Homo sapiens: one gene and its partners. The protein of the gene in region 2 binds, or shares a complex with, the protein of the main gene of each other region. Each region holds a gene or a part of one and is shown on either strand. Other genes may lie near its edges. The genes, in order: API5, FGF2, S100B and FGFR2.

Region 1 (7,023 bases), on a different chromosome or scaffold from region 2:
ACTAGGTAGGAATGCTGCACCACTGCCCAGCAGCTTTATTAAACAATTAAAACAAAATGTTAAGATTGACCATTACTCTTCTCCATATATTGGGTAAAAAACTAAGAGGGAAGAGGAAAATCAGTAACCTTTCAAAACTGATGATCTTTATCAGCAGAACTAGACTGAATTTCATTACATTTTAGAATGAACAGCTCTCAACAACAAATTATCAAGATGTTTAAAAGATTCACAATTTGAAGTCTGAATAATGATACTGCAAAAACAAGTCAAGATTGCAGACAAAGCATCCAAAAATATCACTGTGGTTTTACCTTGGACACAACCATGGTCTGTTACAAAAGTAGGTCATACATACAAAGGTATAAAGAACATTAAGTTTTTAGCTGAAGGCAGCAGTCTGTTTAAAGGGACATCCCCGGCAATCCAATGAGTAGTAGAATTTAAGTATATTAAGCTCATGACAATGCTGAAGAATGCTGATGTCTTATTCAGTAGAGTCTTCCCCGACTACGATTTCCTCGTGTGCCCCAACCTCGGCCACCTCTACTTCCCCTGAAGGCTCCTCTCTGCTCTACGAAAAAGCGAACAAGGGTTTAGGTCTTGCTTAGGATTTCATGGTGCAGCAAACGCAGAAGAAACGTAGCTCATAACTCTGAATACAGCAGTAGGCCCTATAAGAACAGAACTAATATTCTGCTATTCAATCTACAAATTTAGCCTGTACATAAAACAAGAACAACATATATACTGAAGCACGTAAGGCAAGGTACCGACTACATTCATGGTAGTTGCTTAATTAAATGTATCCCAGTAACAAAGTTGTTTCAAGGTGATGTTACGATAACTACACTTTTTTTGGAGGGTCTTGCTGTGTTGCTCAGGCTGGAGTGCAGTGGTGCGTTCACAGTTCACCATAACATTGAACTTCTGGACTAGAGTGATCTTTCTGCCTCAGACTCCCCAGTAGCTAGGGCTACAGATGCACACCACCATGTTTGGCTATTTTTTTTTTTTGTAGAGACAGGTCCTCATTTTGTTGCCAGGCTGATCTCAAACTGCAGGCCTCAAGGGATCGTCCTGCCTCAGTGCTGGGACTACAGGTGTGAGCCACTGTGCCCAGCCCGTACACTTTTTAAAAAACTTAATTCTTCAAATTCACGAATAATAATTCTACATATTCGTGGGGTAGAATACTTTGATACAAAGAATGTACAGTTATCAGCTCAGGGTAACAAGCATATCCATCATCTCAAACACCTATAATTTCTTTGTGTTGGGAACATTCAATATTCTTCTATTTTAAAGTATATATTAACTATAGTCATGCTATAGTGGTACACAACACTAGGGCTTATTCCTATGTTATTTTGCATCCTCCCACAAATCTCTCCCTATCCCTTCCTTCCCCCTATCTTCTCAGCCTCTAGTATGCGCTGTCCTAATTTTTACTTCTATAAGATTAACTTTTTAAAACTTCCACATGAGTGAGAACATGCATTGTTTAATTTTCCATTGCTGGCTTATTTCACCTACTATAAAGTCCTCCAGTTCCTTCCATGTTGCTGCAAATGAAAGGACATTCTTTTTTTATGGCTGAATAGTATCCCATTGTGTATAATACCACATCTTGTTTAGCCATTCACCTGTTGATGCACCTGTTGATTCTGGGTTGATTCCATGTCTTGGCTAATGAATAGTGCTACAATAAACATGGGGGTGCCAATGTCTGACTTTTAATCATATGTAAATGAGATAAAATCTCTTCCCTGAACTTCCAACTTACTCATTGTGGTTTTGATGTGCATTACCCTGATGCTTAGTGTTTAGAATTTTTTCATACATTTATTGGCCATTTGTACGTCTTCTTTTGAGAAATGTCTGTTCAGATGATTTGCCCATTTTTAATCTAGATTTGTTTTGCTATTAAGATGTTTGAATATCTTCTATATTCTGAATATTAATCCTCTGTTGCATGAGTAGTTTACAAATATTTTCTCCCATTCTGTAAGCTGTCTTTTCACTGTTGATGGTTTCCTCTGCTGCACAGAAGCTTTTTAATTTGATATGATCCCATGTTTTTGTTGCCTGTGCTTTTAGGTCTCAGTCATAAAATCTTTTCCCAGACCAATGTCCTGAAGTGCTTCTTGTTTTCTCTTATGGTAGTTTTATTGTTTTAGGTCTTACATTTAGGTCTTTCATCCATTTTGAGTTGGTTTTTGTACAGGGTGGGAGGTGCGGATCTAGTTTCATTCTTCTGCATATGGATACCCAGTTTTCTCAGCACCATTTATTGAAGAGACTGTCCCTTTTTTTTTTGTCCCTCCAATGAGTATTCTTGCCACCTTTGTAAAAAATCAGTTGGCTGTAGATACGTGGATTAATTTCTGGTTCTCTGTTCTGTTCCATTGCTCTGTATCTATTTTTATGCCAGTATCAGGCTGTTTTGGTTACTACATTTTTGATTTATATTTTGAGATCTGGTAGTGTGATAACTCCAGCTTTGTTCTTTTTGCTCAGTATTGCTTTGGCTATTTGGGGTCTTGTGGTTCCATATAAATTTTAAGAATTTTTTTTGGTGGCAATTTCTGTGAAGAATGTCAGTTATTTTGATAGAAGTTGTATTGAATCTGGAGATCACTTTGGGTAGCATGGTCATTTAAAATATATTAATTCCTCTAATCCATGAGTACGGAGTGTCTTTCAATTTGTTTGTATCTCCTTCAATTTCTTTCATCAGTGTTTTGTAGTTTTCCTTGTATAGAAATATTTTACCTTCTTGGTTAATTTATTCCTAGATTTTTTTCACAGCTATTATAAATGGGGTTACCTTGATTTCTTTTTCAGCTAGTTCACTGTTCATGCATAGAAATGCTACTGATTTTTGTATACTAATTTTGTATCTTCTAACTTTTCTAAATTTATCAGTTCTATGAGTTTTTTGGTAGAGTCTTTAGTTTTGTTTTTATATATATAACATCATGTCATCTGCATAGAGAACAATTTGACTTCTCCATTCTAGTTTGGATGCCCTTTATTTCTTTCTCTTATCTACCTGCTCTGGCTATGACTTTCATGACAACTTCTTAGTTCTTTATTTATTGTCTATCATTACTAAAGGTAACTCATATAACTATGAAAAATATCTTAAATTATCAATAATCAATTTCGAAAATCAGGTTAGACTACAAAATGTCCCTTTGAATGCAATAAATATGCAATTTTTGTTTTGATCACAGTATTTCACGCAACTGGACTCACACAAATGTAGATCTAAAGGCTGAGTTTTTTTCACTGCTTTATCAGCTACATAAGCTTCTCAGAATACTGCCAAATAGGTGCTATGTGTGTATGTGCGTCTGAGTGTGTTTCAGCTACTGATATAAACTAAGCATATCTTTTGCTGAAAAATCAAGTCACTTGTGATGTACAGAACAAGAGTCTCTCATCCATTGGTCAGTCACTTTTATAGCCACAGAGAAATGGTCCTCAAAGGTGTCGTCCCATGAAGAAAACTGATCGAAGTTATCACAAGGCTGGACTTTTAATCATATGTAAATGAGATCAAATCTCTTCATTAACTTCTAAACTTCCTCATTATAGCAATCTTGTTAGCAACAATAGAGAGAGCTTGGTTTTGCTGTTTTTGATCCACAATCTTGGAGGCTTGAAAAATACCTTTTCAGTCAATTTTGCAATCAATTTTTTTGCCATTATGTCTTACTAGGGTGATGTCTTGATGTCTTTTTTGACCCCCCTTTCTGCAGAAAGAAAAGTAATTCAATTCTGAGACAGGAAACTCACTGGACCTTTCCCCAGTTTGGCTAATATTTATCTGTATAATAGAATGGGTCTGATTCAAAGTCACCTTCTTATGCCATGACACATTTTTTTACAAGCTGATTAGTATGCAAACCATTTGAAAATGAAATCATTGTGTTTATTATCCTAGTGAACACATTCAGAAAATCAGAGGTGGTTTCTCTGAGGGCAAGATGCTCCCAGAGACAGATGCAGTAACTATGGGAGCATTAAGGTAGTGCAGTAGCCTTTTGTGGGCCATGACTTCTGCATTTTTGACTGTTTAGACTTAGAGCCATCTATGCAGATGCCTGCACATTTCACCCTATCATACTCATTATTCACACCAACACACTTAACACTGTCATAGATACTATTATTAGCTTTAAGCTAAAAGACTATTACAATCCACTCTTTCAATTTTAATATGAATTCAGGTTACACTCTATTCAGCTGTACCTAATGAGGAAATTAAATACACTGTATGAAGGTACTATTTGACGTAGTTATCTTTTCTATATTGGCAAATGCTTTTTTTTTTTTTTTTTTTTTACCTCCAATTGATACAGCCATTTCTATAGTACAGAGATTCACCAAATTTTCTTCTTTTTGAAGAGCTTCATCCTAAAAAATACTCTGCATTTTCATGATCTTTTCAATAGTTTCAAGCTTACATTTTTTTTTTAATTCACTGCTCCCAGTTTAAATTAAACTTTAAGGATTATTTTTATATTCCAAAAAGTAAAGAACACAAGTCACAAAATGTAGAACATTTAGTACTTTTAGGTTACTGGGGAAACTTTGTGCACTGGAAGGAAAACTAAACGTGGGTATATGTTTATGAATGCACCGGGAAGTTGAACTAATTTGTGAGAACCAATACCATGTTTGTAAAGCAAAAAACAGAGACATTGGTTAGTAAAGCAATAAACTTGGATACTGAGAACTGCTTTTGTTTCAACAGGTGAAATAAAGTCAAGCAAATGCTTCAAATTTTGTTGTGAGAATACCTATGACCTGATCACATTAAATTCTCAAATGTAAAATAATTGCAGAAATTCACTCTTCTTTCTAATAAGAAGAATCAGATTTTAGTTTGCTTTTGCATGTTTACTTTGCTTTGCCCTTCTGTTATTTTGAAGACTGGGAATAACTGAAGTTGTGACTCGTGGATGTTTGTCTTGAGTAAAACTTTGCTTATGTTTCTCATGTTGACAGTTTTTTTGTGTCTTTTTAAAAAACACTGTATACAATCTAAAGTGTTAGATTTTTCACATTCTTTTTCCACATGCATTATATCACCTGATTCTCACTATTGAGCAGGCAATGAGTTTTACACAATAGAATCTTCATGTAAAATCAAATTGACTTGTCCAATAAAAAGGAGTACAATTCTTGTATTGCCATAGCTATTGATTACTTTCATTAAAGCCATTCTCCCAGTATCTGAGATAACTTTTGATTTTAAGAATGGTACTGTTAGACACATTAAATCATACAAGTGACAGAGAACAACATGTGATTCAACCAAGTAACGGAGAATCCTTTCCCCTTACAAAATACTTTCACAAATATTGTTATTAGAAGGCTGTAAGAGCTCTTACCTCATTTTTCAGATAAGAGGCAAGGAGATGCACATTTACATACTGTTATGTAAATAAGAGAGTTCAGTGATCATCCTTAAAGTAAAGGTGTCTCAGAGTCTGGAGGGGAAGGGTTCATTTCAGTCTAAAATTGGCTTTCTATATAATCTGTTTGTTCAGACATTAGAAGAATTCAACTGTTATAGAAGTAATTTAATGTTACAATTCTCTCACCTTGGAAACAAAATTACAGATATTATATGGTTCAGAATCTACTTTTTTTTTATTTTAAGAGACAGGGTCTTGCTTGGTCACCCAGCTGGAGTGCAGTCGCACCATCATAGCTTACAGTAGCTTTGGCCTCCTGGGCTTCAGCAATCCTCCTGCCTCTTGCCTCCTGAGTAGCTGGGACTATAAGTGCGTGCCACCATACCCAACTAATTTTTAAATTTTCTTTGTAGAAATGGGGTCTCGCTTTGTTCCCCAGGCTGGCCTCGAACTCTTGGGCTCAAGTGATCCTCCCACCTCGGCCTCCGAAAGTGTTGGGTTTACATGTGTGAGCTACCATGCCTGCCTAAACTTTGTCTTTTTTTTTTTTTTTTTTTTTTTTGAGACGGAGTCTTGCTCTGTCGCCTAGGCTGGAGTACAGTGGTGCGATCTCCACTCACTGAAAGCTCCACCTCCCAGGTTCAAACCATTCTCCTGCCTCAGCCTCCAGAGTAGCTGGGACTACAGGCGCCCGCCACCACACCTGGCAAATTTTTGGTATTTTTAGTAGAGACGGGGTTTCACCCTGTTAGCCAGGATGGTCTCGACCTCCTGACCTCGTGATCCGCCTGCCTCGGCCTCCCAAAGTGCTGGGATTACAGGCTTGAGCCACTGCCCCCGGCCTAAACTTTGTCTTCTTAAGCAAGGTAAGGAATTGACCTGATATTTCTCTCCATTCTTTTAAAAAAAAAGATCCATGAGGAAATAAGCCAATGAGAGATAAACTTTACTTTTGATTCGACAGCCGTGGGAGAGGATGGACTGGTATGAAGCTCTCCTGGCTCTAATGGCTAAAGGGGAATAGGAAGCACTGATAGGAGGATTGCATTCTGGGCAGAGGGAGAGACTGCAATAGAACACATCTTCCTTGCTAGATGATGCCTGAACATCTGACTCCACTTCTGTTATTTCTTTTTAACTAGCTACAGAAGATGGGAGTATAGGCAGCAGGCTGACTATGTCCAAGAAAGAGCATTTATACTATCTCTCAGAAGCTATACCCATCCCTGAGGGAGAATGCACAGAATGCCTTGCCTTGAAGCTGCAACTGGGAAAGCATGGAAAGAATGGTTCTGTCAACTTATTTTGTTTCTGTTGGTTCCTCTGAATACAAGAGGCATATTTTTCTTTAAGTGCTTACTGTTTAATGTTGCATGTTCAATACAGTCAGCCCAGAAGGGTGAATGAGAGAGGAATGGGATAAATCATTTCCTCAACAGCCCTAGTTCTCCAAGCTAATTCAGAAAAGTCATTGGATAGAACCATGACACTGTATATAATTACTAATTAAAATAAAGTATAACACAATTTCTGCCTAATCTCTCATATTCCTTGTACCCAAACGGAAACGCTCACCATAATTAAAGTTGCC
Region 2 (7,023 bases):
CAACCTGGACATAAATTTAAGTACAGTATATTATTTTCTCACATATTGGATGTTTACTGATAGTTGACCAAACCATGAGGAGACCCCCCAAAACAAATAAAACTGACCAGAAAACATGGAGAAGAGTTAATAGTAGCCACAGTTTCCTACTACATTATGGCTCAGATTTCTAGACCTGTTTGAAAAGTTGAAAAATCTATGGTCTCATTCCTCAGACTGTTTTGTCCAACTGACCTGAACATCTGTCACTGGAATTTTTTTTCCTTTGGCATGACACTTTGTGCCTACATGTTTTCTAAACTGCAGGTAACTTTTGAAAGGCCAAGTTCAACCATTATCAGATTTTAACATTTAGTATGGATTAAATTGTGAGTGCAATTTCTTCCCCAAAAGCTGGCCAGAAGGACTGGAGTTTGGGGAGGGATGCTTTGAAGACTGTGATATAAATGATGGGGTCCTGGAGAGGTGCAGGGGAAGAGGAGGCAGAGTGGGAAGCTGTGAGGTAGGAAAGAGAGGAAAATTTTCTAAAAGAAGAGGTAGGAGAAGATGACACAACACAAATGTTTCCAATTTTTCAGTGTTGCTGAAGGTCAACTGTGCTTCACACCTGGGCATTCTCCTGAATTTGCACTCAAAAGGGCCCATTTTCTGGCGTTTTTCTCATAGTCCTGGAATAATCTTCATTTGACATGAGAGTCTTGATAAAAACAAGATGTTAAAAGTGGTTAGAGAGTTTCTCCTTCTCCAGCATGTGCGCTGCACTCCTGCCTTTCTTTTGGCATCCTTAACTTTTGGCAGGCCTCTTTCAATGCGGTGGGAATGGATAATATTAAGTATGTACTCTAAAGTAGCAAGCTGTGTAAAAACATTCAGAAGAGAGAACACTTTATCCCAAGCAGCACGTACAACATGTGGTAGAGTATAGTAAGTGAAATGTATGCTGCTTATGTACACTTAGTATTCAATTTATTCCAGGTGCTCTTATTTACAAAAAAAAAAAAAAAAAAAAAAAATGAGAGTAGTTAGAAGTACTGTATCTACCCTTGGGCTTCTCCCAGGAGGTGACTGCCTGTGTGCCACACTTCTTTGCTTGCAGGCTCCAGAGGACGCTGAGACTTGGAAAGGCAGACCTGCCCACCCCAGTGTGGAGCAGGGGTGGCTTGTAGGTGGGCCTGACCCCTGGGCTCTTTGCTACTGCATGTGTTCCATGCAACCCCAAGCATAAAAACATGGACTTGTGAAATCAAAGGGAGGCTTCAGACCTTCTGGTTTACCCATCTCTTTTTACAGAAGAGGATACTGAAGCTCAGAAAAGTCACCAATTACTCAAGTTCACTTGTGGGTTTCCTCTTTTTTTATCCTGAATGAGCTTCTTACCACCTGGTCCCTTGCCTTCTCTTCCTGCCATCCCTCAGCCTCAGTGCGCTCTTCATTCCACCATAGAGTGTGCCCTGCTGGACCCCACTTTGGTTAGGCTTCCTCCATTTCAGGGTAGTGAGCTGCTAGCCCCTTTGAAGAGTTCTTACTAGTTTACGGGTGCCTCAGGTTGATTTCCTGGGGTTTTGGATAAAGCCACCTTTCCATCTCTTCACTACTGCCTTTGGGGTAAATAGAACCATTGATTTAATAATACACGTACTAGATTCTCTCCCCCCACCTCTCTTTGGTAATATCTGGCAAGTGGATAGCAATAATTTTACTTAATGAACGTGATATTTACTGTAATAAATATTGGGTGCAGTAAACAAATGAAGTCAGAATCTAATAGCTCATTTAATCTTGGAAATCATGTAATCAGTACAGCAATGAAAGGACAATTCATGAGTCATAGATATTACCACACCTTAGGAGCCTTTTAAGATGAGTTTGATGCCAAGTGACTTCAGCCTAGAAAAGGCAATATCCCCTCATGACATGCCCTGAGGGGTTTCATTTGTTTATAAAATGACCGTTATGTAATTAGACTTTGACAATGGTGTAACAATTGGGTTTTAAGTATTCTCATTTTGATTTATGATGCCATTTTATGTGGAAGGACATAATTTTAAAGTTTAATTAGAAAATAAAATGTTACAGATGTAATGAACAAAACAAGAACGGTTCTTTAAATATCATAAGCATAAAATTGACTTTCTTCATCTATACACTGATTCTGAGAACTCATCATCAGTGATGTTGAAAAGACAATTTAAGGTCTCACATTATTGGAACTACTATTTTAAAACCACGAGATGCCTGTACAAGCTGGTAATTACACATGTGCTGTAGTCTTTGCTTGTTTTTCCAATTCTAGTGTTTGTTGATTTTCCAGATACCCTACTTGGGCCCCTATGTCCCGTAGCACACGTCTGTAAGAAGGCTGGCATGGGATAAAAGTCTATGACCATGAAACGGAGCAAGGCAAATCTGTATCTTTGGGGCACATATCTTTTTCTTTTTTTCTTTTTGAGACACAGTCTTACCCTGTCACCTAGGCTGGAGTGCAGTGGCACAATCTCAGCTCACTACAACCTCTCCTTCCTGGGTTCAAGCAATTCTTCTGCTTCAGCTGTGATTACAAGCACCTGCCACCGCACCCAGCTAATTTTTGCATTTTTAGTAGAGACGGGATTTCACCATGAATTTTCCTGGCTGGTCTCGAACTCCAGACCTCAGGTTATCTGTCCACCTCAGCCTCCCAAAGTGCTGTGATTACAGGCGTGAGCCACCGTGCCCAGCCTGGGGCACAAATCTTAACCTCATCAGGATATTCTGTCCAAACAAATGTATTTTGTTCTGTTTTATTTTTGAGTTTGTCCTTTTCTGTGCTCTGAAATTAGGATCTGGTCTAGTACTTAATTTGTATATTGTCAGTGCTCAATAAATAGTTAATGCTTGATTGTTTGCATAATAATTTGGAATAATGATTATCAGTGTAGAGTTTTAGCTGGATCATTAGAAAATGCACTTATGGCACTGTGATTTTAAGTGTTTCCTTGTTGTATCCACTGTTCAGTTAGCTCCTGCTTTCTCTTTTCTCCCTTTAATAATGACCGCCAACAAGGCCTTTTAAGCTAGGTTATGTATAGCCACAGGAATTTAGGAGAGGAGGAAAAGAAAAGTGGCAACTTCCAGGGGAACTCACCCTTTGAGCCATAGACTGTGGTTCTTAGAAGCCAGACCAGTCTCATTCTAAACACCTTCAGAATATTTTTAGTTTGAAGAAATTGGAAGGGCCTGGAGGCAACAGACAGCCAATATTCAGTGTTTATGTCTCATCCAGCTGTCTTCTGTCACTCTTCCTGCACAAGGTGACTTTTGACTTGACCGGTGTATCTTTGATACTTACTCATTTACAGAAATGTATAATGGATGTGTGTGTGTGTGTGTGTGTGTATGTGTGTATTTGTATTTTTATAGAGCTATTGACTTCTGCAATTTAACCTCTAAGATGAATTATCCAATAGAATTCTGAAATGAAAAGTTCACAGATTTTCAAGGTATTTTGGAGATTTAAAAATTGAAGAGAAGCTATGTGAATATTAAGTGTATGTTCCAGATATAATTGAACAATTGAAAGGAATGATCCTGGTTTAATTTATAATTAAGCTATACATTAATTTATAATGAAAACTTGTAATTAAATGATAACTCAAATTAGCCAAGAAAAAAGTATTTTTTAAAAGAAATTTGTACAGAGTAGTAATGATCTGGCTGCATTCTGTGAACAGATTATTCTCTGTTCATAATTTAGGCACCTTAAGATGCTGGCACCTTAAGGTAGGAACCATGACTTCTTTATATAAATAAACATCATAAAAAGCTCAGTACTTTTTACTCAGAGAGTGCTCACTAAATGTCAGCTGATGAGGAAAACATTCTCTGTGGAACTTGCTGTGAAATAACTACTCATGAGGCATATGCTGTATAAAGCTTGGTCAAAGTTTACAGTTTTCTTGGTGTCTTGACATCTGTGTTTAGATACTTGGTCAATCTTTAAATGAAGATAATTATATATAGCAAAGTTATATTTGGGAAACATTTCGGAATTTTGGAGACTGGCTATTAGTTTTTCTTAGAATAATCTAGAGAAAGATGAATCATTTTTCAGGAAAAATTGTTTAGAACTTTTATTGGGAATTCTGATTTCCTTAAAAGTATTTAAGATTTTTATCATGTACTATTGTTGTAGGAAAATCCTGGTTCTTGTCACACGCCCAGGAAAGATTAGGCTCACAGACACTTTGGAGGGTGAGGGGTTATGGAATTTATTGGTCAGAAAGAAAAAAGGAAAAACAACACAGCAAAGCAATAGGGGTTCATATTAACAGGCCCCCATCTCACAGATTGATTCCCAAGTTACCACCCCGAACAGGAGAGACCAGTCTCCTCCCTGCAAAGGGCGTGAACTTCTGTGGCTCCACCCCATTCTCCCAGTGTGCAGGCCATTTGGAGGTTCTCCAGGGACCCCTTTATACTTGGCTGTCCTGTCTCACTATGCAATATAAAACTTTCTCAGGTATGCTGTGCATTGTTTTTCATTCTTATTTTCTTTTGTGAATAATATCCTGGAATCAGTACGTTCTTCTACATCATCTCCTTTTCTTTTTTTGAACTCTTTTAAATTCTAGATTCTGCCCTCAGTATTCCACTTAAATCATTCTTATGAGAGCACCAGTAGTCTTCTAATTTAATCATGTGGCCTTTTCCAATTTTTCATGCTACTCTGACATGTGGCAGTATTGTCTGCCTCTGACTTCTTGATAATTCCTTGGCTTCTATTACATCACATCAACCTGGTTCTCCTTTTGAAACTGCCTTTGCAAAAGTTATATCTGAGAAAATTATGACACTGCCAGAGATATGACCTAGCCCACTCCCCTCCTCTTGCCTTTAGCTTTCAAGCTGCCTTAATCATTTCTGGGCTTAGGCCCAGATAACTTTGGGAGATAGTTTAAAGGATAATAAGCCTTCCCCAAAACTCAACTGCCTTTATAAAGCTAATGAAAGGCCCTCAGGCTTCAGGGGAGGACAGGAATCTGAGTTGTGCTAAGGTGTAGACGTATTAATAGATTGCCACTAGTGCACCAATAGTGGTGCAGATAACACCACTATTGTAGATTGGCCTTTTGAGATATCTTTTCAGGTTTTTTGCATGTCTGACACCCATGGCTCCAGCTGGACCTGCTAAACCACTCCTGTGGCCCCACCCAGGAATGGTTCCACTCAAGAGGACAACTTTGACCCCCTATTATTTCATCTTCAGCCCAATGAATTATCAGTAAGCACCCATTGCATAGCAATCCTCACCCTTTCCCCCAAACTGCTGTTGAAAAACTCCTATCCCATGAGCTGTGGATGAGATTGGTTTGAGTACTAACTCTATCTCCCATGTGGCTTTGCCGGCCTTGTGTTTATTAAACTCTTTCTTTACTGCAATGCTGTGGTCTTTCCTTGTGCAGCAGGCTGGAAGAACTCCTCAGGCGGTTATACTTTTGCCCATCCAACTGTCTTTTTTTCCACTTTCTTCTGTTTTTTTTTTGCATTTGTATTCCCCCAAGGTTCTGTTTTTAGCCTTCTACTCTTCTTTCTGTGTACTTGTATTCCTTCAGAAGATCATGTATTGTCTCTGTCTCTGTCTTGATTCCCCATCTCAATTTCCCACTGCTTGGAGGGCAGACACACTGCCATAGCTTCAACTTAACATACATAAAACAGAACTTAACACCATTTTCTCAAACTAGCACCCTTTCCTCCTGAATTTCTGCTTGTAGTGAATTATTATTCTTGTCTCCAAAGCTAGACACCATGGAATTGTCTTTGATGCCTTTCTCTACTTCTTTCGTATATATCTCTCTAAAATGTTTCCCAGCCATAGTGATTTCCTTGCCCTGCCTCTTGATTTAATGACCTCTACTCTCCTGCAATTTTAAGCACTAACCAGACCTACCTGGCTTTCCTTCTTAAACATGACCTACCTTATTTCTTACTGTTTACCATCCATACCTTCCTGAAGCTGTAGCACTCTGTGCTTTAATTATAGTCTCTTTAATGTGTCATAACGATTACTGTCACAATGATTGGCCTTTCTTCATGTGACTCTTGTTTTTGAAAAATCCTTCTTTTTCTTATCAATTTCTCTCTCACAACTCCTCCCATCCTCACCTTTCTCTGGAAAAATCCTTTAAGATCCAGCCCAACAGACTTCTTTGTGAAACTTTCCTCTACCTTCCCAGGGAGAATTAATGGTTTTTACTGTTTTCCCATATACTTGGTACATAGTCTGAACACAGAACTTCATGCTTTCTGTAATAGTTAGTGGTTTATGTGTCTGGCTTCTGCACTGGGACTGTGAACTCTTTGTAGGCAAGCACTGGATCCCATTTGCTGCATCTATCCTCACACACAGTGGCCACTCAAAGAATGTTTGTTAAATTGAAGATGTACTCAATAAATTAGCCAAGTCTCTTAACTTCCTTTCTGACCTTCCCTTCACGTCTCCTGTCTTCCTTGTCATCTTAGCCTTTAACCAGGCAGTTTTCCTTAAGCTGAAATGTCCTGTCTGTCCTCGTACCTTATCCCATTTCCAGTCATGCTTTGGGCCTTATTTCTTTCACATCATCCTGTATCCATCTTTCCTTTTCTGTGTGCTATCTAAAAATTCTCTCTAATAGCTTGTTGTATTTTAATTTTATGTCCCCCAGTTTTACTGGAAATTCCTAGCTGGCAAGAAATTTTTATTTTTAAAAAATCCAGACCACATTACCCAGTAGTTCTTTACTCTTTCCTATTCTGAGGGTCTGAGGCTGAATTTACTCATCCCAGGGTCCTTTTGGCTTCATTGCTGAATGAGTGACCAGTCTGAGTCCCATGAAAAGGTTCACTCTATATTTGTTGAATGGGCAACAACTTCAAATAAGTATAAATACTATAGTATGAGGCATATAAAATGGTAAATTGAATGCAACAGCACTGTAGTTCTTTTCTGCAAACACCTTTAACATTATTCAAGGGAAGCAATAAAGGCAAAGCGTAGTCATTTGT
Region 3 (7,480 bases), on a different chromosome or scaffold from region 2:
ACACAAGATGGTTGATAAGGAAATGAAAACAAGGGGCTCATTTGAGCCAGCCCCACACTGAGGGTTCCGTTACTCAAACAAGTTTGCAGAAGCAGCCCAGGAGTCTTGGAAGGGAAATGAAATCACCTTCAGGGCAGCTGAGAAGATAAAGCCAGTGTACAGATGGATTTTAAGAGGAGATGGAGAAAGTGTCAAGTTTAAAAAGCAAGACTCACCTCTAAGAAATGGGAAAGCTCATTGTTGATGAGCTCCTTCAGTTCGGATTTCTTCAGCTTGTGCTTGTCTCCCTCCCTTCCAGAATATTGGTGGAAAACGTCGATGAGGGCCACCATGGCCTTCTCCAGCTCAGACATCCTAGGGGCTCGCAAAGGAAAGTTGCCTTCTCATCTATACCTCATCCTAAAACATTTCATATGTTATCAATACAGACCTCAACCCAGACAAGGGGGATGGAATGGCCTTGGCACTCTTTTCAAGCTCAGAGCAGCAGGCATGGCCTGGAGGGGCATTCTGGGAATTTGCACTTTTATCATAATCCTTCCACCGGCCTCTTAGACAGCTGTGGGCCTGCCTTCTCTGTCCGTGTGGGCCACGGGGATATATTCCCATGCCCTCTGAATTCTGGCTGGGTTGGGCCAACAGGGAAACTGGCAAAAATACAGAGGCAGAGCAGCAAGGGAATTCAGGGATTAATTTCCCCTGAATTAATCCCCACAGGGTCCCTCTCTGTTCCTGCAAGGCTCCAAGATGAGGTGGTAGAGTGCAGGTGAGCAAACCATCAACTGCAAGCTGTTAAAATCAATCTGAAAGTGAGACAGTGACTAGGAGCAAAATAAGAAGACAAAAAATCAATAGCATTCCTATATTCTATCAGTAAAGAAGTAGAAAATACAGTGCAAAATATCCTATGCATATAGCAATAACATGTGATCTAAGACTAAGTTTAGGAAGAAAAACGTAGGTCCTTCCAAGAGATTCTGAGGAACATAAAATGTAGGAAGTTTTTCCTTTAAATTCATATGTAAATTTAAATCATTTTTAATAAAAACAATGGAATTTTTTTGGATGGGTGACATGACAAAAACAGCTGTAAAATTCATCAGGAAAAATAAATATGGTAGAATTGCCGCAATCTTTTTGAAGAATAACAGTGAAAGTTATTTGATCTACCAGGAAAAAAAAATGTATCCTAAGTTTAACTGATCAAATGGGTGTGGTTCTGTCGCAGGGAGGGACAGAATCCAGCAGAAAGCTGAGCTGCTGAGCCTGCATTCCACCTCCAGTGTACCGAAAGGGTGGCTCATTCACTGCAGTGACTGGGACGGCGGGAGGGGGTGGGGGCAGGAATAGGTGTTTCTCTGCAGCTGTCAAAGTAAGAGCCCCCCTACCTCCCTCACAGCAAGTACCTTACGCCACAGCCTACGAACCAAGGAAATATCTGGTCAGTCTGGGAATGAGGCGCATTTTACAAAGGTTGCCTTGTCAGTTGTTTCACAAAACAGATGCGCAGTCAGAGAAATTTACCAGCTTTTGGCCTTGAGTTCTAATCATTAAATAAGAACGTTTGCGCTGTCATAATTAAAAACAAATTAATAAATCAAATAGTGTTGAAAAATCATTCCCATGTTGAATATATAACTTACATCTTAAAAATAATTTGGAATTATTTTATTTATTTCTGATCCTCCGAAGGAAACAGGATTGAAGATTTTTTTATACTGGCCAGATCTTTGCTAAAGTCATTCTATTAATAATCAGTGTACTTTATTTTGCTCTTGAGTCCCTAAAAATTTGATAATTCACAAATAGAACAATTAAGATGGATTAAAATCTTTAACATTTCATGCTTTCTTATTCTTTGCACTCAAGTTTTCAATTATTGATATATGCATGTTTGTATGTGTGTGTATTTTTTTAAACAAAACAAGACACTTTTACATCATTCTGATGCTCCTCAAAGTCCATGATGATTTGGGGAAAAGGAGGTTAAATTGTTTTTCTATGAATTGTGACTAATGGGATTATTACAAAGGAAAGGCATAAAACATGTATCCCATATATTAGAACACTAATAGAAACCACTAGAAAATATGGTTTTCTTCATAACCACACTACAAATCAATTAAATTCTTGTTAAATTTTTCCCTTTGACCTAAGAAATAGTTGATGGTTTATAGTTTATCTTTTAAGAGAAATGGAAATAAATGTCCGTTTCTTTCTCACATTCTTTGAATGTCCTACATTAATCTTTTAATATTGAGAACAAGAGAACTTTTGAACTTTAACTCCTTAGAAAGACAAGTTACCTAGCGTGTGAGGATCCCTCTAAAGAAGGGGTTCGACCTCCCTGAGAAACTGTGAGACTGAGGAAAGTTAAAACCCACCAAAACCCCGATTTCTTTGACCCAATTTATTTGTAATTGTTACGTAATTTCTGAGTGGCGTCCTGGGGCTGTGGGGACCCTGGCACTTCAAACTGAGGGAAACTGGAAAACTGAAGAGTTACTTACCCAGGGCGGTGGAAGAAATATAAGGAGAAAAGGGAAGCATTTATTTATGATATAGGACTAAACTAGCATTAGGTTCTCCATCATTTTTAGCCCCAGTGGGAAGCAAAATCTTTACTCTTCAAATAGTTACAGAAGAGGCAGTATTTGTAGTACCGCTGGGAAAATGTCAACAATCACTTCTGGGCCATGAAACCTGACGTTTCTCTGATTTATGGCAAAACACACCTCTAGCTGTCTAGGGCTGATGCAGTCAGGTGTCCACAAAGCAGCAGTAATGTGGAGATTAAAACACATCATCCTATTGACACTTCTGAAATGCTGCCAATTGTCCTAAAGGGGCTTTTTAAGCTACCACTTAGTTTCTACCCCTCCATTCCGTTCCACCCAAAAGAAAAGAACCATTTCTTCCTGAGCGTCCTCTTGGCCTGGCTCTTTCTCACCTCTTCCTTGTCTCACCCCTTCCTGGTCTCCTTGCTGCAGGCGTCGTCTCTGCTGCGGGTCCTGGGCGGCAGGACTGGTGGGCAGAGGCAGCCTCTTATTCCCTCTGCCCAGGGAGGATGGATGAACCCTGGTGCAGCCCACTGCAGGCCGTGGCAGCCAATGGGAGCCGAAGGCGGGGGTGGCAGGGCTGCCAGGCCTGCACACAGGGCTGCATTGACCAAGCAGCCCCGGGGACTTGCTGGGAGCCAGGATTGCACATGGGCTGAGGAAGAAAAAAGGGCCTGTAGGGCAGGAAGTGGGGAGTCAGCTTTTTGTGCGATTTCTTTATTACATGAATATTGATGTCACCCTAAAGGCAAGGTTGGGGGTGGGGAGAGGAGAGAGACTTGGATTAATTGATTCAAACAAAGCAAATGTGCAGCCAAGAACAAGCAGCTTCCAAGTACAGGCTGAGCATAGGAGATTAAGTGGCCTGCAAGTTGGTTTCTAATGGAGAGGCCCCTGGAGCTTCTCTCCTCTGCCATCCTCCAAGTCTGGCCCCACTGGGCGTGAAGTTCTGTGGACAGTAGTGCTTGTCTGTGGTCAGCCCTGGGCTCAACGGGGCTGCCTCAGAGAAGCTGCTGAGGCCAGTGTCTGCAGGGACTAAAACGGGTGGTACTTTTAGGGGAAAACGTGATGTGTGGACTGTATCCCAAGGCCTTTCCCTCCACCCCAGGGTGGAAGGTCACAGACTCTCAGAGTTGGACGATGCCTTAGAGATGTCCCGTTCGAACGCTGTTTTACAGAGGCGTGTGGACGGTGTGCCCCCTTGCTGAAGCCTCCAGCCAGCCTGAGGAAGGAGAAGTCCAGCTGTCCCCTCAACTCGCTCGACTGGAGCCTCTGAACACGGGGGCCAGTTTATGGGTTCTTCTTCACAAGAATGAAGAAGTAGGTGTTCCTTCTGACAAATTACACAAGAACATTGGCCCAAACTCTCCAAAAATGTCCATGGTCCCCAATGGATGCCTGACCCAGCATCACGTCCTTCTCCCAACCCAGTTTCAAAGTGGCCGTGAAAGGGTTTCCCACAAGATATCTGTGTACATGGCTGTCTTGCTGTCATTGTTTTATCCAGGACGTTCTCTACCATTCAGGATCTGTAAGTGTGCCCTGGAAATAGCACAGGGCTGAGAGCTGTGGTCTTGCGTGGCTCAGCCTGCCCCAGCCTCCTGTGAGGAACAGCCTGAGCAGTGTGGTTGGCCCTCACTTCCTCATCGGCTTCACCACCCCTGGCTGTGGTCTCTGCTGAAGGATCTGACACAGGCTTGCTCTGTGAAGCACAGAGCTTGCCCAGGCCCAAGGAAGGCACAACTGTGCTCTGTGCCCCTTCCTCGCTCAGATGTTGGAGGGACCATTCCTGTAAGTGCTGACCACTTCCCCAGAGTGGCAGCCTGAGCTCTGGATTAACCCTTCAGTGTCCATAGAAAACGCTCTAGCCTGCTCCTGCAGGGGTTAAAAATAGTTTGAAATCCACTCATGCAATGACCGTACACCTGTGCTTAGGGCACTGCGTTCAGCAGGAGGGCCCAGCCGGGCCTGCCCTCTGCACACTGCAGCTTCCTGGGATGGCAAGTGTGGGGCCGTGGGTCCACCCTGTTCCCAGGTCTTGGAAGCAGGCTGAGAGAGAGGATCTGCCACAGGGAGGAAAAGGGCTTTCAAGCGCTCTGGGGCCCCAGGATGGTATTCTTTGCCCAGGCTCCCCAGGAGCTCGTGGATACAACCTCACCAGCTTCCCACAGATTCCTACAATTGCTGGGTCTGAATCTTGGCTCCACCATTTAACAGTGGTTTGACTTTGGATAAATTCCTAAGCCTTTCTGTGAAAGGGGTGACCGTAGTCCCTACTTTGCAGGGTTGTTCTGGGTGTTTTTCCCTGACCTTCACACTTCCTGATCACCCTGGCTTACCTGTCCTGACCCCTCAGTTTTAATCTTATCCCATTAGACTGGACAGCCACCAGATCCAATCATGTGTGACTCCCACATTCACCCACCCCCTGCAGCTACATTCCACAGGAAGACCCTTCGCTAAGTAATGAGAAATGCATTATTGAGTGAGTGGAACACCTGAAAAGTTCCATGGTCTGTAGCCTACATATGACCATGTGGATTGCTAGACTAGACCTCTGATTTCAGCGGGACGATAATATTTCAGAGTAGCAGGCTAAGACAAGGTGGGCATGTCAGCCATAAACAGCAGAAGGAACACACCGATAATCAGAATGCCTTGGTCCACAGAGATTTTTGGCAGTGGTGAATTGCTCACAGTGTTCCTTAGAATGAAGAGATGGACAGTCGCTAGAGTAGTCTTTAATCCACACAACAGGAAAACCTCTAGGTCTGGTCACCGAAGTACCTAACTTGAATCACCACAGTGGAGATCATGGGCTCTCTCCGAGTTTCCAGACCTAAGTTGGGTCAGACCTAGAGCATCTTGATTGAAGGGAGAAGCCAAGGCCCCTTGAGAAAGAATCTGTGCTAGTGAGAAAGAATACCATAAACCCTCTTCCACACCTTTTCTGAAGTGTCCTGCAGCCATCAACTAATGAAAAGGAAGTAACCTAGATGTCTCAGGGATTGCCTCAATTGACATAAATTCCTGGGAACCAAAAATGGCACTGTGGCTCACCAGTCAAAGCAGAAACTTGTGATGGTCAGTTCTTCACTTGATAGAGGTTCTAACATGAGACCGACTCACAGGGGGCCCAGTTGGTACACTATTCTCCCTATAGTTAGTTTTTCAGTTCCTGGTTGTATAATTGAAACAAACATACACTAGCTAAATCCCCTCACTGGCTCTCTTACGTATGAGATGAGGACCATGATGGTAGGAGAAGTTTAGTGAAAGTCCCAGAACTTCCCCTTCTTATCCAGAAATACTGAATCTCTGAAAGAGCTTTGGAGATTAATGCCACCATTAAAGGGTTGAAATAAGCAGGCACTGTGACACTTCTTACAAACCCATTTAACTGGCCACTTTGGCCTGTGCAGAACTCATATTGTTACCAGAAAAAGGGGTCTCGATCCAGATGTAAAGAGGGGATTCTTGGATCTCACGCAGGAAGGAATTCAAGGTGAGTTGCAGAGTGAAGTGAGAAGAGATAGTTTATTGAAAGCTCTTACATTCCATTACAGAGTAGGGCATCCTCAGAAAGCAAGTAGAGGAATGCACTGTCTTTAAGTGCATATATAGCTGTTTTGTCTATGTAAAGATTAAACTAAGCTGTGACTATATGCAGGCGAGCAGACAGCGTGGCAAAATTTATTATTCTATTGATTCAAAGAAAACTATCCTTAAGATTTTAGTGTGTGCGTACGTTAAAGCATAGCTCTTGTTATCTTGAAAGCGTATAGTGTTTGGGTATTGGGATGTCTGCACTCTCTGTTGTTGTAGCAGTGTGTCCTTGCAAGTATCGTTCAGCTGTTTCCTCAGCTATAAACATCTTAGGTCTATAGGTTTTGACTGCAAGAAATGTGCCTTGTTAATCTCAAAATGCAGCTGAACTTAAAGTGGCATTACTCTGACTCTCCTAGGCGCCTGCTTCCCTAACGATATGGATTATGAAGAATGTGGACTATTGCAAATGTAATCAGCTGGTGACTTCAATTACAGCTGCTGTACCAGATGAGAAATCTCTGCTGGAGAAAATCAACATATTCTCTGGCACTTTGCATGCAGGTACTGATCTTACTCATGCTTTTTTCTCAAACCAGTTTGCAAGGACCACCAGAAGCAGTTTACTTTTACCTGACAGGGTGAACAGTATACACTCACAGTGTTGCCTGAAGGACATGCCAGTTCTTCTGCTCTAAGCAATGATATTGTCTGCAGAGATCTAGTCATCTTGTCAGTTCACGCAACATTACACTGGTCCACTAATATTGACAATATTATGCTTATTGAATCTGAAAAAGAGGAAGTAGCAAAGGTGGGAGATGATCTCCACAAAACTTAGGGGCCCTCCACCTCAGTGAAGTTTCTAGCAGGTTCAGAGGTGTGGAATACGTTGAAATATCCCCTCCAAGTGAAAAACAAGTTGATGTATTTTGCGCCACCTCCTGTGAAAAAGAAACACAATATTCAGTTGGGCTTTGAGGATTTTAGATACAACGTTTATTATATTTGCATGTGCTACTTTCAGCCTATGAGGCTGGAAGTTTCAAATGGGGGTCAGAGAAAGTTTAGGCTGTAATGTAAGCTGCTTTACCACTTTGCTCATAGGATTCGGTAGATCCAGTGATATTTGAAGTGTCTGTGGCACATTGAAATGCAGTGTGGACCCTCTGACAAGCACCCATAGGAGAATTACAGCACAGAGCTCTGGGATTTTGGAGTAAGTCTACGTTCTCTTCTGCAGCTAACTGATCTCATTTTGAGAATCAGCATCTGGCTTGCTTTTGGGCCATAACCATGGGACATCAGGAGACCATGCAGCCTAAGTGCTATCTGGTCTACCTGGCCATAAAGTTGGGTGTGCATGTAACAGCAGG
Region 4 (7,023 bases), on a different chromosome or scaffold from region 2:
GACTGCTCCACCAGCAGCTACACTGAAGGCAGCCTCGGGGATGTCCCTCTGTCTTTGGTTTCATGAGTCAGAACTCACAAAATGAAGTTCTGAGAAAAATCATGATTTGAGAGGAACCCATAGTTGAACTATCTGACCCTATGGAAAAAGAATAAACAAGACCACAGACTCCAACCAACAGCCAACAGGGGAGTGTGTGTGTAAAACACTACGCATGTCTCACAAGACAACCAAGGACAAGGGGCTTCTAGAAGGAAGTTCTTACCTCATTGGTTGTGAGAGTGAGAATTCGATCCAAGTCTTCTACCAACTGCTTGAACGTTGGTCTCTGGGAGGGCACTGCATGCCAACAGTCCCTCATCATCATGTACCTGGGAAAAATGGATTTCCTTGAATTAATTTCATATGCACTGGGTACGTGGTTATAGTCAGTTTTAATAGGCAATATGGGGACGTGGTGTAAATTAGGAAAATGCATCAGAACCTTCCAAGCAACTAGATTAGGGGGTCATGAATCACTTTCCCAAAAGCTTCCCTGCCAGTTCCTCCGAAAGGCACTTTGACTTACAAAAACATGTTAGAAAGGCATCGAAGCCATCAAGAAAGACACAGCTATGTGTTTTCCCTGGTAACCCTGGGCCACAGTGACATCTCACAATGGCGTCACACCCTAAAGATGCTTTGGAGGCTGAAGGAAAATGCGTATTTCCATGGGCTGGTCTCCAGTCTTCCCTCCCCTGACACCCTGCCCAGCACCAAAGCAGCTCCACTATTTATCTGCCCGGTGCTTTGGGTCTTAATGATTCTAGTTGACACAGCTTCCTGAGTTAAAAAAAAATTAAATAAAATTTGAAAACTACAACTTCAAGTTTTTGATGAATTAATCTGCCACCACTGGGCTGCACACTAACTTCCTGATTAACTCTTAGATAGGCTTAGCTTCCCAGGTCTTATCTTGATTTTGGGTTTCGACAGATCCTCTACGTTACAAAAGAAAAAAAACAATAGGAATGACAAAGAGCACAATAAATGCCTTTATATAATATGCTATAAAATGTGGCCATTCATCAGACATCCACGGTACACCGAAAAGCACTCACGGGATTACTGATATAAAATCCCCATGAAATGATACACAATAGACCGCAGTTTCTGGGACAATCACTCTTCTTAGTTAATCCTGGAGGGGTTGAGGCAGGAGGCAGAGAGACTCCTTTCAAAGCACTGATTCTATTGCACCAGGCACACGTCACAAACACAACATAACTCCACTTAAAGTGTGAGGCAGGTTTTGCTACAAACCAGTTCATGGTTTTACAGGCAGATCTGGTACAGTAAGGAGGGCGCCTGGACACATGTTTAATTCTCTGCACTAAAACACAAGTGAGACCTAGGTAACCAAACACGAGTTCCTTCGCTCTGAGGAAATGTGGTTGGCGTCAATCTGTAATGGCAATTTTCAATGGTTCGAGAAGTTCTGGAAACACCGATTCTCTACTGGCCACGATGGGGCCAGGCGGGGGCCAGGCACAACCACCAGGGAAAGGCTGTGTTGGTTCCTTAATCCTACACCCTGCAGGGCGGCCCCGCGGCTTTCTAGCTTGTTTCCTGACCCGTGGGTCTTCCTGTCACTCCACGGGAGACCGCAGAAGGTGCAGCACAGTGGCCCAGGAAGACCACTCCTGCTGGCTCTGCAAAGTCAGGAGCCCTCAGCCAGGCAGCCAGACACCCTCTGATCCAAAGCCCTCTCCATACTCAGAATAATGTTCTTTCTCTCAGACAAGTAATGGTTGTCGGTGTCGCTATGTATCCCAGCTCTGGATTGAGCCCAGAGAGCTTCAGCCATTCTTCTTAGAGCATGTTTAGGAAACCAGGGGCCTTCAAAAACGAGATACATCAGGAGAGGTATTACTGGTGTGGCAAGTCCACTGGGGCACCGGCAGGAAAGACAACAGCCCTTACAGTTCGTTGGTGCAGTTGGCTGGCTTATCCATTCTGTGTCCTTCCTTCAGCAGCTTAAAAAGTTCCTCCACGGGAATCCCTGGGTAGGGCGAGCCCCCTAAAGTGAAGATCTCCCACATTAACACCCCGAAGGACCAGCTGCAACAAAAGGAGAAAGCACGGCATTACTAACCCATCCACGTTGCCAAAACCTAAACACGCCCAGCTGAGACATAAACACCTCCTCACTTCTGAAGTTCAAAGACAAATGGGCCCTCCTGCAGTTCCTCCTATGTGCTCTTTCCTGCCCTGCAAGAGCATCCCCGAATGATGATGACACGGGGATGTGCTGATGGAATTTTCCATCAATAGACAAAAAGGCAAACTGCCATCACTCTGGAATAGAGCTGCTTGTCTTAAATGTGGTGTTAGCAATGCAAGGATCTCAGTTTCTCAGTTTCAAAGCCTTTACGCTCCTTTCCAACTCCTTATGTGCCTGACCCAAGGGTTGTGATCTACCAGGATGGGCAGTTGACAGAATAAGGCCAGCAAGCCAACTCCGCAGGATCACAGCTGCCCTGTGTGGCTGGCGGAACATCTGCTGCACAGAGGCTCTGGAACTTACTAAGATCGCAAAGGCAATCAGCACTGGGCTGGGGTTAGGATGAGGAATCACATGCCCCAGATGAGTTGCACACAACAAAACTGAACACATCTCACAGGCCATAATTTATTTACACTTGACTCTTCAGAGATTTGGACTTCCTGTGCCAAGTTCAGGAGGCTCAATCTCTGGGAGGAGCAAGCTGAGAGAGCCAGGTTTAGCTACATCATGGTCGTTCTGGAAACTCAACCTTCTGTACTCGATGGTGGTGTTTCACTCCGCAGTTTTCTACAGAGCAAAAGCAGCAGCACAGGACAGGCAGAACAGCCTCTGTGCCTCAGTTGCTCACAGCAAAAATGGGATAGTCATGTCTTTTTTTTAGGATTGTTGAGAGGACCAACTATGGTAGCACAGAATTAATGCCTACCCAGAACTCCTCCTGCTCATACAAATAAAAAATAGTTCAAGTGATTTTTTTTTCCCCAGACAGAGTCTCGCTCTGTTGCCAGGCTGGAGTGCAGTGGCACAATCTCAGCTCACTGCAACCTCTGACTCCCAGGTTCAAGCGATTCTCCTGCCTCAGCCTCCCAAGTAGTGGAGATTACAGACACGCATAACTACGCCCAGCTAATTTTTGTAGTTTTAGTAGAGACGGGGTTTCACCATGTTGGCCAGGATGGCCTTGATCTCCTGACCTCGTGATCCACCCGCCTTGCCCTCCCAAAGTGCTGGGATTGATTACAGGTATGAGTCACTGCACACAGCCTTCAACTGAATTTTCAAATCTAAAATATCAGTTGGAGCCTGACCCCACTGGTTTTGTCAGTATATCATAATAGAAATATTCTACTGTGTTTCTAGAATGCTATCAAGGATGCCAAAGCAAGATCAGACCTTTTTGTTGAGGGATAAACATAGAGAGTAGACCCTGTGGAGGTCCCCAGCCTGGACCACATCTCACTCAGCTCCACTCTTTAAGGACAAATCTGGGTTAGAGGGAAATATGACAAACTACTCGTAAGTGGGAAAAGCTCCAGGATTACTCCTTTAATGGAGTGAAGAACATGCCAAGAGCTTGGCGAATTAGATAACCGCTTTGTAGTTGCACATCCATGAATATGTTCAAGGGAAGGACTTCCGCTCTGGCAGGGGGAGGTCAGCAGTTCCACCTTCTGTGCTCTTTGAAGCCAGGCAGATTAGTAACAGAGCATTGGTTATCAGCCTACCATAAAATCTGTCCTTTCTAAGGCCAGCTCCTGCACCTTCTACGAATGTGTGAAATGCAGCAGCCACTAAAGAAGGAAGAAAGGTGAAGTACGTACAGTATTTTTGCAGCTCAAGCCCAGGAAAAAGCCAGAGAAAAGAGAGTTACTCACACATCACTCTGATGAGTGTATACTCTATCAAACAGGGCTTCTGGAGCCATCCACTTGACTGGAAGCCGCCCCTGCAAATGTAGAGGAAAATGCAAAAACTAAATATATTTAAAAGAATTTATCTTAGCAGGCTCAATAGGGCTATGCCCTGTTTAAGAGCTGATATTCTCGGTTTTTACTAGTCAGTCAATAGAGCAGAAATCAGTCCCAATGAGGACCATGAACAATGTGTGAGATGCACAGGTCTGGGCCGTTAATAAAATGCCATCTCCTTGGATTCTATCCTTTATCTCCCTAGCACACAGATGCTCCTTGACCAGTTATTAGGCAAAAATTAAACCAGTAACTTCCAAGCTGTAGTTTTTGCTATGAAAGTTCTTGATGAGAACCATAAGAAAATCCTAGCGGTTGCTGATTATTCTGTATATAAGTGTTTCACATTTACTAAAATTGACATAATAGAGGCTAAATTTGCATATTGAGAGTTTGTGAATAGTAAGTCAAAAGAACGGGAATCGGGGCAGGGGAATGGGTCCCCAGCCATCCCACCCAGCTCTCAACATTGACGGCCTTTCTTCCTGGAACATTCTGAGCCTCACCCCCGCCCCTGCCCACTGTGTTACTGCCATCGACTTACATTGGTGGTCTTTTTGTAATAGTCTATATTGTTGATATCTCTGGCGAGTCCAAAGTCTGCTATTTTCATCACATTGTTTTCTGTTACCAAAACATTTCTGGCTGCTAAATCTCGATGAATACACTGAAATCAAGAAAGAAGCAAGAGAAATAACTAATTTCAAAACACCGCCAGAACAAAAAGGAAATATGTTCATTTCTTAAAATGCAGATAGAAAATATAGCTGATGTTAAAAACCAGTTGCGGTATACTATAAGAAATACAGTGTGGCCGGGTGCGGTGGCTCATGCCTGTAATACCAGCACTTTGGGAGGTCAAGGTGGGCGGATCACTTGAGGTCAGTAGTTCGAGACCAGCCTGGCCAACACGGCAAAATCCCATCTCTGCTAAAACTACAAAAATTAGCCGAGCGTGGTGGTGTGCACCTGTAGTCCCAGCTACTCAGGAGGCTGAGGCACAAGAATCACTTGAACCTGGGAGACAGAGGTTGCAGTGAGCTGAGATCACGCCATTGCACTCCAGCCTGGGTGACAGAGTGAGACTCTGTCTCAAAAAAAAAAAAAAAAAAAGAAAGAAAAGAAAAGAAAACGCAGTGTGGCTCTAAGATTAAGAAGACAGGTCAACTGGGATCATCGGAGAGCCTGGATCACGACATGTATTTGTTTTGGAATTATAAATAAATAGAATGATCATTTTGAAGAGCGAAGGTAGACTAAATAACCATATTCTCTTCTACCTCCAGTTGTCCAGCCACACCAGTGTCTTTCTTTCAGCTGCTTATAGATCTGTATCTGATCATCCTAAAATCTTTTCTCTCAACACTTGCTCTCCTGCCCTTTAAACCTGAATTTTCAGAAGCGTTGGTTAAAATCCAACATTGTGTCTTCTTCATTCCTGGTCACTTCTCAAACATTCTAATCTGTGTTCCACTCTTGCCTCTCCTGAAGCTTATGAAGAACCTCTGAATTGTTAGACGCAAATGACGTCCTCCAACTCCTCAGTTGTTCCTCCTCTGTGGCTTCAGATGCTATTGATTTCTTGCTTGTTTTTTAAAATGGTCCCTCTGTTTAGGTTTTCTTGTTTTTGTTTTTTTTGTTTTAACATGGAGTCTTGTCCTTGTCGCCCAGGCTGGAGTGCAATGGTGCGATCTTGGCTCACCGCAACCTCCGCCTCCTGGGTTCAAGCGATTCTCCTGCCTCAGCCTCCCGAGTAGCTGAGACTACAGGTGCCTGCCACCACACCCGGCTAATATTTTGTATTTTTAGTAGAGACGGGGTTTCACCATGTCGGTCAGGCTGGTCTCGAACTCCTGACCTCAGGTGAGCCATCCGCCTCGGCCTCCCAAAGTGCTAGGATTACAGGTGTAAGCCACCACACCCAGCCCCTCTGTTTAGTTTTATCCCGTCCCCTTCCCTCAGCTGCCTCTCTGTCTCTCCCTGCCCTCTTAGAATCTCTGGCTGGCTCTTCTCTTTTTCTGTCCCTTCAAATAGAGGAATTGTTCCATTAAGTTTATGTATTTCCATATATCCTCAAGGCATTAATTCTAAACACATACAAAATATGCGCAAGTTCGTATCTCCATCATGACCTCCCTCCTGAGACCCATGTTCTCATTTTCAACTGTCTATGGGACACTTCCCCACTGACATTCCCTTGACGTCTCAAATTCAAGGTTTCAACTCCTCCAATGCTTTGTCTCTCTTAATCGGAGAGCTATACACCGGTATTCTTTACACATTCCTCCCAAGTCCTGTTGATTTCAACTCCAAAATGCCTTCCCATGTGTCCACACCATGCCTTTCCCACTGCTAATGCCTTAGTCCAGGCCATCTTCACTGTCTGCCCCTCCCCCTGAGACTTCCACACTGCCCGTCTAGCGGGTCTCTACGCTTCCAAACTTAGCCCTGTTGTACCTCCTCCATGTCCCATGACTAAGGTTCCTGAAATGACTAGTCATGTCCTTTCTTGGTCTCTACCATGGCCAATGCCCGTCTATCCACGTTCTCAGTCCAGTTTCTCCTAACACCTGGCCTCAGCCTGAATGTGCCACATACACTGATTCTAAACACTGAAATATTAAATACTTGCTGCAGAACAGCTAATTTATTGTCTTGACACTAACTCTTGGGTCTCAGAAAGATCTAGCTATTACGACTTTTCCTTCTTTTTTTTTTTTTTTTTTTTTTTTTTGAGACGGAGTTTCACTCTTGTTTCCCAGGCTAGAGTGCAGTGGCACGATCTTGGCTCAATGCAACCTCTGCCTCCCAGGTTCAAGTGATTCTCCTGCCCTCAGCCTCCCAAGTAGCTGGGATTGCAGGTGCCCACCACCACATCAGGCTAATTTTGTATTTTTGGTAGAGATAGGGTTTCACCATGTTGGTCAGGCTGGTCTCAAACTCCTGACCTCAAGTGATCCACCCGCCTCGGCCTCCCAAAGTACTGGGATTATAGGCGTGAGCCACCAC

What was found.
Region 1: the proteins of FGF2 (region 2) and API5 are in contact, whole or in part, in a crystal structure (PDB 6L4O), measured with the Homo sapiens proteins. Residues at the interface, in NP_001997.5 of Homo sapiens: Asn169, Arg181, Arg223, Lys261, Arg262, Thr263, Gln265, Lys267, Lys271, Lys277, Ala278; in NP_001136402.1 of Homo sapiens: Asp145, Arg148, Glu184, Asp185, Val186, Thr187, Glu190, Glu219, Asp222, Gln225, Asn228, Asp231, Arg237.
Region 3: the proteins of FGF2 (region 2) and S100B are in contact, whole or in part, in an NMR structure (PDB 2M49), measured with the Homo sapiens proteins. Residues at the interface, in NP_001997.5 of Homo sapiens: Arg164, Tyr166, Cys167, Lys168, Asn169, Gly170, Gly171, Phe173, Arg186, Lys188, Asn243, Asn244, Tyr245, Arg262, Lys267, Gly275, Gln276, Lys277, Ala278, Leu282, Met284; in NP_006263.1 of Homo sapiens: Glu47, Ile48, Lys49, Glu50, Gln51, Glu52, Asp55, Lys56, Cys85, Phe88, Phe89, Glu90, His91, Glu92.
Region 4: the proteins of FGF2 (region 2) and FGFR2 are in contact, whole or in part, in a crystal structure (PDB 1II4), measured with the Homo sapiens proteins. Residues at the interface, in NP_001997.5 of Homo sapiens: Phe154, Pro155, Pro156, Gly157, His158, Phe159, Lys160, Lys163, Tyr166, Lys168, Gly170, Gly171, Phe173, Arg186, Leu197, Gln198, Ala199, Glu200, Glu201, Arg202, Gly203, Val205, Ser206, Tyr215, Val230, Phe235, Glu238, Leu240, Asn243, Asn244; in NP_000132.3 of Homo sapiens: Glu163, Lys164, Leu166, His167, Ala168, Val169, Pro170, Ala171, Asn173, Asp247, Val249, Glu250, Arg251, Pro253, Ile257, Lys279, Val280, Tyr281, Ser282, Asp283, Ala284, Gln285, Pro286, His287, Ile288, Ala315, Gly316, Val317, Thr319, Thr320.

Annotation. Positions count from the first base shown.
Region 1 is NC_000011.10:43,335,979-43,343,001, reverse strand, and holds part of API5 (apoptosis inhibitor 5), read right to left. Parts: coding exon 7,008-7,023; intron 3,762-7,007; coding exon of another isoform or gene 3,724-3,761; exon of another isoform or gene 575-3,723; coding exon 492-574; 3' UTR 1-491. UniProt on the Homo sapiens protein: Antiapoptotic factor that may have a role in protein assembly. Negatively regulates ACIN1. By binding to ACIN1, it suppresses ACIN1 cleavage from CASP3 and ACIN1-mediated DNA fragmentation. Also known to efficiently suppress E2F1-induced apoptosis.
Region 2 is NC_000004.12:122,829,828-122,836,850, forward strand, and holds part of FGF2 (fibroblast growth factor 2 isoform 18 kDa), read left to right. Parts: intron 1-7,023. UniProt on the Homo sapiens protein: Acts as a ligand for FGFR1, FGFR2, FGFR3 and FGFR4. Also acts as an integrin ligand which is required for FGF2 signaling. Binds to integrin ITGAV:ITGB3.
Region 3 is NC_000021.9:46,602,063-46,609,542, forward strand, and holds the start of S100B (protein S100-B), read right to left. Parts: upstream 3,021-7,480; 5' UTR 2,951-3,020; intron 362-2,950; exon of another isoform or gene 355-361; 5' UTR 354-354; coding exon 216-353; intron 1-215. UniProt on the Homo sapiens protein: Small zinc- and- and calcium-binding protein that is highly expressed in astrocytes and constitutes one of the most abundant soluble proteins in brain.
Region 4 is NC_000010.11:121,483,433-121,490,455, forward strand, and holds part of FGFR2 (fibroblast growth factor receptor 2 isoform 1 precursor), read right to left. Parts: intron 4,682-7,023; coding exon 4,559-4,681; intron 3,993-4,558; coding exon 3,922-3,992; intron 2,101-3,921; coding exon 1,963-2,100; intron 372-1,962; coding exon 266-371; intron 1-265. UniProt on the Homo sapiens protein: Tyrosine-protein kinase that acts as a cell-surface receptor for fibroblast growth factors and plays an essential role in the regulation of cell proliferation, differentiation, migration and apoptosis, and in the regulation of embryonic development.